2 separate regions of the Homo sapiens genome follow, and region 2 is linked to region 1. The links come from fine-mapping of genetic effects on gene expression. A gene starts in region 1. The other region holds a variant in brackets. All regions are shown on one strand. Distances are from middle to middle.

Region 1 (5,374 bases):
GCCCCCCAAAGTGCTGGGATTATAGGCAGAGCCACTGTGCGTGGGAAAGCATCAAGCATACATCCTGGCTATCCCGAATGGATTGTATTTCAAAGTAACCAGAGAGATGAGGGAATGCTCACCTTTGTAGAAGAATCTCATCTTATAAATGCAGGAGAAATGAGAGCATTTGAAATTACCACTTTGCACACCTAAGGAACATCATAAAACTACACTAGGGTTTCTCAACCTGGGTACTACTGACATTTTGAGCTGGATAATTCTTCGCTGTGGGGGGGAGGTGTGCTCTGTGAATTATACAATGTTTAGCAGTATTCCTTGCATTCATTTTCTAGATAACAGCAGTACCACCCGCCACCCCCCACCCAGTTGCAACAATCCAAAATATCTCCAGACATTGCCAAATTTCCCCTTGGTAGGACAGGGCAGAATCAACCCTCGTTGAGAACCAATGGTCTAATGATCATCAACGTTTGCTAGACTATTAGAAGAAAGGCTGATGGTAAACTTCATGGATAATCAGGATGACAACCCCCAAATTGAGAGATGAATTACAATATTACTAAGAGACAAACCCGCCTTGTGCCTCAGTAGAAGTACATAGTGCCAGCCACGAAGCGTTATTGCAAACAAAACAAAACAAAAAAACCCAAACCTCAACATTACACCTAAACCTAATGAAGCTTCTAGCCAGGGGCAAATCCAAGCTTTGTGGGGCCTTAAACTATACAAATTTCACAGTCCTCTTTAAGAAAAAGACACAAAATTATAAATGCGAAATTAGGTACGGGGGTCTATGCAAGGGAGGGCCTGAAGATTAAGCTTCATTAGTTTCACTGTAAACCTCCCCTGACTCTAGAATTAACTGTGATTACAGGACATACCAGGGACAAAAAACGTTAAATGACACCTGAAGATACAATCAGCAAAACCCAGAAAGTGGAAAATTCTGTTGGTCAAATGACCCAGTTTCTTCAATAAGTAAATGCCATGAATAACAAACAACAAAAAGAGAGGGGAAATTTATATATATAATATATATATAATATGTATAATATATATATATGTTGTTATATGGTTTGTTTTTTTTTTTTTGGACACGAGTCTCTCTCTCACCCAGGCTGGAGTGCAGTGGCATGATCTCGGCTCACTGCAACCTCTGCCTCCTGGGTTCAAGCGATTCTTCTGCCTCAGTCTCCCAAGTAGCTGGGACTACAGGTGAGCACCACCACACCCAGCTAATTTTTGTATTTTTGGTAGAGGTAGGGTTTCACCATATTGGCCAGGCTGGTCTCGAACTCCTGACCTCGTGATCTGCCCACCTTGGCCTCCCAAAGTGCTGGGATTACAGGTGTGAGCCACTGCGCCCGGCCCTGTTTTTGTTTGTTTTGAGATAGAATCTCACTCTGTTGCCTAGGCTGGAGTACAGTGGCATCATCTCAGCCCACTGCAACCTCCACCTCCCTGATTCTAGCAATTCTCCTGCCTCAGCCTCCCAAGTAGCTGAGATTACAGGTGTGCACCACCACACCTGGCTAATTTTTGTATTTTTAGTAGAAACAGGGTTTCACCATGTTGGCCAGGCTGGTCTCAAACTCCTGACCTCAAGTGATCCTTCCACCTCAGCCTCCCAAAGTGCTGGGATTACAGGCATGAGCCACTGTGCCCAGCCAAAATTGTTATATATTAAGAGACATATATTTGTATGAAATGCAGTAAGTAAACCTTGTTTGGACCCTAAATATCTAATGTACAAAATTTTTTAAGGCAATGGGGAAAATTAAACACATACTAGGTATTAAGTGATGTTAAATAATTTTTAAAATTTTGGTGGGTGTGATAATAGTATAAAGTCCTTATCTGTTAGAGACACACACTGACGTATTTATAGGTGAAATGACATGATGTCCAGGATTTGCTTTAATATACAGCACTTCAAAAAAAAATGCAGAAAGGGATACATGAAATGAGAAAGGCAGCAAACTGTTGTTGAAGTTGGATGATGAGTACAGCCCTCCGTTATTATCCAAGGGGGATAATTCCTGGACCCCTACGGATACCAAAATCCAGGTATGCTCAAGTTCTTTATGAAAGTTCATTGTAATTATTCTATTATATAAAAGTTTCGAAATTCTGTTGATAAAATGTATTTTTAGTAGAGACGGGGGTTTCACCTTGTTGGCCCAACTGGTCTCGAATTTCTAACCTCAGATGATCCACCAGCCTTGGCCGCCCAAAGTGTTAGCATTACAGGCGTGAGCCACCGCGCCCGCCTGGCCTTGATAAAAACAGTTTTAACCTTCCGTTGCTTCGATTCCATGCCCACTAAGTAACATTCCAGTTTGTTTTTCACTTTCAAAAGGATGTGCTGTAACTAGGGGATGTAAACAAGCTCCATGACCCTACTTATTCCAAGTTTTCGTTCCACTCTCCCACCTTTTTTTTAAGACAAGGTATCACCCTCGGTCGCCCAGGCTGGAGCGCGATCACTGCTTAATGCATCCTCGACCTCCTGGGTTCAAGCGATTCTCCTGCCTCAGCCTCCCAAGTAGCTGGGACTACATGCGCACACCACCACACCGGTTAATTTTTTGTAGAGACGGGGGTTTCACCATGTTGCCCAGGCTGGTCCCGAACTCCTGGGCTCAAGGGATCCGCCCGCCTCAGCCTCCCAGAGTGCTGGGATTACAGGTGCCAGCCACCGCGCCCGGCCCCAGCTTCTTAAAAGAATGATCCGAAACTATGGCAGCACTGGGCTTTTGGTCCCCACCCAAGAAATGCCCGCTCGCAGAGGCTCGCCGCGGCAGGCTCTCCCGACGTGACAGAGTGTGGGTCTGGATTCAGCCTCGGTTCTTACGAGTCAGATAGGTGGACACGCAAAGCAAAACATCACAGGGCTTTTTGTATTTAGCACAGAAAACACTTGTGAGCCCGAGCTGAGAACCCAAAAGGCACGCTTCAGGCCATCGTAGCCACCAAGCCTGGTCAGATTCCGTCCACCGTCTCCTTGGTGCTCCGAGACCCAAATCGCTGACTGGGGCCGAGGGCGGGCGTGACTGCGCAGGCGTGCCTCCCCTGCGAGATGCCGGAGGTAAGCTGCGGGGTAAGGGGCGAGAAATTAAGGGCGAACGTCATTGCGCATGCGCCCTCTACTCTCGTTGCGGGGGTAGGCGGGCGCCGGGCTGTGTGAGGGGGCGGGGCGCGGCAGTGTTCGGTACGGATGGAGTTGCAGGAGACGGCGAGTACATATCACTGCGCAGGCGTCCTCTTCCCCTAACTCTCAGGGTCGCTAGGGTGGCGCGCAGGCGCAGAGCGATGCGCAAATGTGCGCAGGCGCTTAGGGGCTGAGGCGCGATGGCAGGTGTCGGGGCTGGGCCTCTGCGGGCGATGGGGCGGCAGGCCCTGCTGCTTCTCGCGCTGTGCGCCACAGGCGCCCAGGGGCTCTACTTCCACATCGGCGAGACCGAGAAGCGCTGTTTCATCGAGGAAATCCCCGACGAGACCATGGTCATCGGTCAGGCGGGCTGAGGGTGGGGAGGCCCTTTGTACCCAGCTCAGCCCTCGGCGGCGCTCCCTCCTCCCGAGCCCAGCCGGGTCGCTGGCTCCCCCAGTACCTAGCCTGAGGGTGCCCCGAGGACGCCAGGCCCCCTGCCTAGAGCTCCGGGCCGCACGTCGGAGGGGGCCGGGCGGAGAGGCGGCCCACTAGGGCCGGTCGTGACTATGTGTCTGCCCCGCAGGCAACTATCGTACCCAGATGTGGGATAAGCAGAAGGAGGTCTTCCTGCCCTCGACCCCTGGCCTGGGCATGCACGTGGAAGTGAAGGACCCCGACGGCAAGGTAAGGCTGGCGTTGGCCCACGCAGCCGTTCTTCAGTGGAGCTCCCGTGGGGTGTAAAGCACTGCCTGGAGGAGGCCTCAAGGGACAGGAACTTGCACTTGGAGAGCCTGCGGTATAAAGGTGGGGCCTTCACTCACATATGTTGCAGGTGGTGCTGTCCCGGCAGTACGGCTCGGAGGGCCGCTTCACGTTCACCTCCCACACGCCCGGTGACCATCAAATCTGTCTGCACTCCAATTCTACCAGGATGGCTCTCTTCGCTGGTGGCAAACTGGTAAGAGGATTTTCTCTTTGGCTTCAGCTTAGAATCTCTCACTTGTTTCCAAATTTTGATTTATCAAGATTGTGAAACTTTGTAGCACAGTCAGAATTGGGGAGACAGATGTTGCCTTCTGCTCCACAGCCAGGGACAATAGTGGGTTCCATACCCTGGAACAGACAACTGGAGGCCCCACCACTCATACATTCCATGTTTCCTTGTAGCGGGTGCATCTCGACATCCAGGTTGGGGAGCATGCCAACAACTACCCTGAGATTGCTGCAAAAGATAAGCTGACGGAGCTACAGCTCCGCGCCCGCCAGTTGCTTGATCAGGTGGAACAGATTCAGAAGGAGCAGGATTACCAAAGGGCAAGTGCATATCTCCTTGTAATTTGAGAGGGCAGTTGACCTTTATACCCACTATACCTACTCAAGTTTCTGCTTGGGAGATCAGCTCTGCAGAGAATGGAATGAGAAGTATTGGTTTAGATAGGTTGTTTGTTTGTTGTTTTTGAGACGGAGTTTCACTCTTGTTGCCCATGCTGGAGTGCAATGCCATGATCTTGGCTCACTGCAACCTCCGCCTCCCCAGGTTCAAGCGATTCTCCTGCCTCAGCCTCCTGAGTAGCTGGGATTACAGGCATGCGCCACCATGCCTGGCTAATTTTGTACTTTTAGTAGAGACGGGGGTTTCTCCACGTTGGTCAGGCTGGTCTCGAACTCCCGACATCAAGTGATCCGCCCGCCTCAGCCTCCCAAAGTGCTGGGATTACAGGTGTGAGCTACCGCGCCCTGCCTGTTTTGCTTTTTTATCAAAACATTTTATTGTGGTAAAATATAACACCAAATGTGTCATTTTAACTGTCTATATAGTTCAGTGGTATTAAGTGCCTTCATAATGTTGTGCTACCAACACCATCATCCAGCTCCAGAACTTTTTCATCTTCTCAAACTAAAAATCTGTACTTATTTTGTTTTGTTTTTGAGATGGAGTCTCGCTCTGTTGCCCAGGCTGGAGCGCAGTGGCGCCATCTCGGCTCACTGCACCCTCCGCCTCCCAGGTTCAAGCGATTCTCCTGCCTCAGCCTCCCAAGTAGCTGGGATTACAGGCAAGTGCCACCATGCGTGGCTCATTTTTGTGTTTTTAGTAGAGACTGGGTTTCACCATGTTGGCCAGGCTGGTCTTGAACTCCTGGCCTCAGGCAATCCACTGCCGCAGCCTCCCAAAGTGTTGGGATTACAGGCGTGAGCCACTGCACCCAGCAAATCTGTACT
Region 2 (5,374 bases), 49 kb before region 1:
CAGGAATCGCTCCGGCCTACTGGAGGATGGCAGGGCCCAGTGAACAGCCAGCACAAACTGCCAGACACATCAGAGGCCTTCATGGCTTCTAGCCTGGTGTGAGCCTCAGCTCCAAGGGAGCTGGCAGTGGGAGGAGTGGGGAAACCTAGCCAACCCACAGAGTCATGAGACATGCTACACTGGTGCCAAGTTTTGAGGTGGTTTGTTATACAAACATTCATGGAAACCAGACTTTTTACTGCATGAAAAGATGACATCCAAGATACTGTGACCCCTTTCTCACGCAGTCTTTCTGACACACCTCAGGAAATGAGAACGCTTCAAACTACCCAGATCTGCACACAATGGCACATTTTATCAGCTCTCAGAATTGCAACTCTCAAGGAGGTGAGGAAGACCCACAGTCTGGGGTCACCTGTGGTCGTCTGGTTGAGGCCTCATCTGTCCTCAATAATTATGCAACCCTATTTGGGGGAACCCCAGCCCAGCTACACAAAGCATCTGCTCCAGGGTTTCAGAGGGAATACCACGTGACTGACCACTCAAAGAGAGGGTTCTAAAGGCTATCTCCTCACCTCACGATCCAATCATGGACGCGAAGAGATATGAGAATCCCAAAGTCCTCAAACCTCCCTCCAAGGGAGTCTTGGATGGGGAGGGGAGCCAGAGAACAGTAACCTAGAGACTAAACAGACTATTTTTTAATAACATGATGACTTCATCTAAAAAACCGGCACTAACCTTTTAGTAATTTCTCACCGCCACCCAGCTTCAGACTGTGCGGGGAAGCTGAGCCTGCCTCTGACTTACAAAGCATGGCTCTTTCATTTCCTCAAAGGCAAGCACCTGTGGCCACCTGTGCTACAGAATGGAACTCACTGGAACAATTTGCTCCTTTTCACTCTTGGAGTCTACTTTCCCATTGAGGGTTTTTTTTTTTTTTTTTTTTTTGACACAGAGTCTCGCTCTGTTGCCCAGGCTAGAGTGCAGTGGCTCAATCTTGGCTCACTAAAAGCTCCGCCTCCCAGGTTCACGCCATTCTCCTGCCTCAGCTTCCCAAGTAGCTGGGACTACAGGGGTGCGCCACCATGCCCGGCTAATTTTTTGTATTTTTAGTACAGACAGGGTTTCACCATGTTAGCCAGGATGGTCTCGATCTCCTGACCTCGTGATCTGCCCACCTCAGCCTCCCAAAGTGCTGGGATTACAGGCGTGAGCCACTGTGCCTGGCCCCATTAAGGTATTTTTGATCTCTCTCCCCTTTCAATTTCTGACATTAAACAAAATTTTTTTTTTCTTAAAGTACAGTACAAAAGGATAATCATTAAAAACATCCACCAGGCGGATCATGAGGTCAGGAGATTGAGACCATCCTGGCTAACATGGCGAAACCCCGTCTCTACTAAAAATACAAAAAATTAGCCAGGCGTGGTGGCACGCGCCTATGGTCCCAGCTACTTGGGAGCCTGAGGCAGGTGAATCACTTGAACCCGGGGAGGCGGAGGTTGCAGTGAGCCGAGATCGTGCCATTGCACTCTAGCCTGTGTGACAGAGCGAAAGTCCATCTCAAAACAACAATAACAACAACAACAAAAAACATCCACCAGGCTCAGTGGCTCACGCCTGTAATCCCACCACTTTAGGAGGCAAGGCAGGAGGATGGCTTGAAGCCAGGAGTTTGAGACCAGCCTGGGCAAAAAAACAAGACCCTGTCTCTATAAAAAATATAAAATATTAGTCAGGCATGGTGGTGTGCACCTGTACTCCCAGCTACTCAGGAAGCTGAGGCGTGGGGGAGTGGCGGGGGAGTGGATTACTTGAGCCCAGAAGTTTGAGGCTACTATCATGGTGCCACTGCACTCCAGTATGGGTAATGGAGACCCTGTCTCAAAAAGAAGAGCTCCAAAAGATGCAGTGATCCTCATTTAGAGTAAGCCTCTCTCCTCCCACCAGCCTCAGTGACCTCGTATGCCTGCTGTCCTGGCCTCAGTCCCTCCTGCTCTTGGGGATCCCAACTCCTCCTGCACCACATCCTCAAACTTGCTCTCCTTCTACCTGCTGAGGGGTCCATGCTCCCACAGCACATAACAAAATCAACAAACACCTCTTGGTTTGATCTTGGAACCTCTCCATTTACTTCATAATCCAAATTTTTGGTTTTTTCTTGCTGCGTCTGGCTCCTGGCCCTGAAGCCTGCATCCATCATCCTGCTGAGTGACCGTGAGCCCCTGTTGGGCTCCTTCACAGCACAGCATAATGCACTTCCTTTCAGAAGCTCAGTGGGTTCTATTAGAATTCCAAATGTTTTTATTTATTTATTTTTCTTTTTAAGGGCCGGGAGAGAGAGGAGAGAGAAAGGAAAGAGGGAAGGGGGTGGAGAGGGGGAGAGAGAGAGAGAAAAGAGAGCTAGAATTTTAACTGTTGTTTAAACTTATTTAATCATCCTGCTAGGATAACAGGGCAAGACTGCTTTTCCTCTTGCAGCCGCCACTCAGCACAAGCTT[C/T]GAACACAGCTGTCATGAGCTGCAAACTACCACACAAGTGAGGGTGTTGCTTCATGTTTCCTGTTGTTTCAAAGAGGTTATAATTTTATCACCCTAAATAAACCATAAATGCAAACTGCTTAAGAGTGAAATACTGTGCTAAAGTTGGAGAAGGCGCACTCAGTCAGTTTAGCTGATTTAACACAAAAAGCCACAAGTGCTGAGATTGCTCTTAACATGTGAAGTTAAAGATTATCAAGTGGCGGTGGGGGAGGGTGGTAGGAGAGTGAGGGTTGAAAAATTGCCTATTGGGTACAATGTTCATTATCTGGGTGATGGGTACACTAGAAACCCAATTCCCACCATTACTTAACGTACCCATGTTACAAACCCACACATGTACCTCCTGAATCTTCAAAAACAAAAAATCATCAAGGGGTAACTTCAAAGCTCATCGCTGAAACCCCATTTACGTAGACCATGCAGTTTATGTATACAGTCAGCCCTCCGTATCTGTGGGTTCTGCATCCATGGATTCAACCAAACGTGGATTGAAAATAGTTGGTAAAAAACTGCCTGTACTGAACATGTACACTTTTTTTTCCTGTTATTATTCTCTAAACCAGGGATCCCCAACCCCCGGGCCACAGACCAGTACTGGTCAGTGGCCTGTTTGGAACTGGGTTGCATAGCAGGAAGTGAGCGGCAAGCGAGCATTACCACCTGAGCTCCACCTCCTGTCACATCAGCGGGGGCATTAGATTCTCATGGGAGAGCCAACTGGATTGTGAGCTGTGCATGCAAGGGATCTAAGTTCACTCCTTATGAGAATCTAACTAATGCCTGATGTGAGGTGGAACAGTTTCACTGCAAAGCCATCCTCCCCTGATCCCTCAGTCCATGGAAAAATTGTCTTCCACGAAACTGGTCCCTGGTGCCAAAGGAGTTGGGGACTGCTGCCACAAACAATGAAGTATAACAACTATCTGCATAGCATTTACCTTGTATTAGGTATTACAAGTAATCTAGAGATGATTTAAAGTATATGGGAGAACGTGCATAGTTTATATTTCATTTTATACAAGGGACATGAGCTTCCTTGGATTTTAGTATCCTCAGTGTGCCCTGGAACCAATCCCCCACAGATACCAAGGAATGACTACATATATTTCTGATAAGTCATTCATAAATCAAACATAAAAGATTAAAATACTCAAAATGCATTCCAACCACCCAACTGGCATTGCCTAAAGTGCCTTGTGAATTATTCCCAGAAATAAATAACTTGAGTGGCACCAAAGTGTTCTGCAGATTTTTCAACACAGCTGTTCCTTGTCACGTGAACATATCAGATCTCCTTATGAGCACATCAGACTTCCATCAGACTTCCACATACCCACTGTGGGAAGCCCCTTCACCGCACATGCAGCGGCTAGGAGGGTAACTTGGAGCAGGGCTCCTGCCATGGGAGGAACCCCAGGCCAGGACACAACCATGGGTACCATAGTCCTATTTTTCAAAGTGAGGCCAAGGCAGTTTCAACACTGCAGAGTGAAAAGGCCCATAACACTGCATAATGGGACAGTTTGTGTATCTGTGCTTTTCCTCCACTTAGTTTCACCCATAGAAAACACCAGTACTGTGTTTCATAAGCACGAAAGGAGGAAGCAGAACGGTGTCGACAGATGAGCAGCGATGCCAGACTCAGCAGCAGGCCAACAGCCTGCACCTGTAATCTGAACGCATAGAGACCCTCCCTCCTGCAGCGACCACATGTACACACTTTAGGAGCTGACACGTGAAAAGTGCAAGAAGAAAAAACCATCAAGAAACAGGCATCAGGCCGGGCATGATGGCTCACGCCCATAATCCCAGAACTTTGGGAGGCCGAGGCGGTCGGATCACCTGAGGTCGGGAGTTCAAGACCAGCCTGGCCAACATGGTGAAACCCCGTCTTTATTAAAAATACAAAAATTAGCCAGGCGTGATGGGGCACGTCTGTAATCCCAGCTAGCTGGGAGACTGAGGTACGAGAATTGCTTGAACCCAGGAAGCGGAAGTTGCAGAGAGCCGAGACTGCGCCACTGCACTCCAGACTTGGTGACAGAGCGAGACTCGTCTCAAAAAAAAAAAAAAAAAAGAAAAGAAAAAGAAAAAGGAAAGAAAAGAAATGGGCATCAGTTAACAAGAACAGGGAGGCAGGCTTTAGGCAGGTGGGCAGGGCAGAGGAAAGCACAGAGCAGAGGAAGAGCCCTGAGGTACAAAGCAAGCTGTGAGAAAGCCAAATGGCCAGGAGGGCCTAGAAGAAAAGCAGGGCCAATGATGGCACCCTCAAGGCAGCTGCTGAAGGCACTGTTGGGAGAAGAACAACAGGCCCCAGCTCCTTCCACTCCCTCAGGACCTAATCCTGGCTCTTCCTCAGCAGGGCCAGAACCTGGCAGATGCATCACAAGGAACTCAACACCATGCTACAGCTGTAGGTGGGCACCTGTCCCTACAAAACAAAATGAGATCAACACCCAGACTCATGGGGGCTTAGCAGTTCTCAATTACCTGTTTGTCTTAAACATTAACAAGGATAACTTAGCTCTGACTGTGTCTTAAAGACATAAATAAAGATGTCATCATTTGATGTGACCTCAAATATGCTGAGACCCTAATGAGGAGGGTTTCATAGGCTGACAGCCCAGGCCACCGCTGAAGGCTCTTAAGAGGGGTCAGTGAGGAGCACAAATGCCAGACTAGAACAGAGACGAAAGTCTAGGACAGGACCAAAGGTAGGAACAAAAGGGAGATGGCAGATGGGCCCACCACAGAGACAGACCCAGGTCAGCTAGTTAACCGGATTCTGTTCTGGGGAGTGGACTTAGGGTAAAAAAGGTACTTGCAGC

The links. PIP is the estimated chance that this variant, and not a neighbour inherited with it, causes the effect.
Region 2: its variant is fine-mapped to the expression of TMED4 in whole blood (TOPMed, PIP 0.98).

What each region holds. Positions count from the first base shown.
Region 1 is chr7:44,580,187-44,585,560 of GRCh38, reverse strand. It overlaps TMED4 (transmembrane p24 trafficking protein 4), which reads left to right and starts at 3,330. Exons shown (of 5, transcript NM_182547.4): 1 at 3,330-3,514; 2 at 3,738-3,838; 3 at 3,987-4,112; 4 at 4,322-4,468. The coding sequence starts at 3,355. RefSeq lists an enhancer at 2,847-2,956 and silencers at 3,047-3,206, 3,607-3,706.
Region 2 is chr7:44,628,830-44,634,203 of GRCh38, reverse strand. The region is part of intron 2 of OGDH (oxoglutarate dehydrogenase); the gene reads right to left. Among named protein-coding and RNA genes, the nearest start is that of OGDH, 25 kb to the right of the region's middle. RefSeq lists enhancers at 24-73, 4,347-4,396. The variant C/T (reference allele first, on the strand shown) is at 2,505.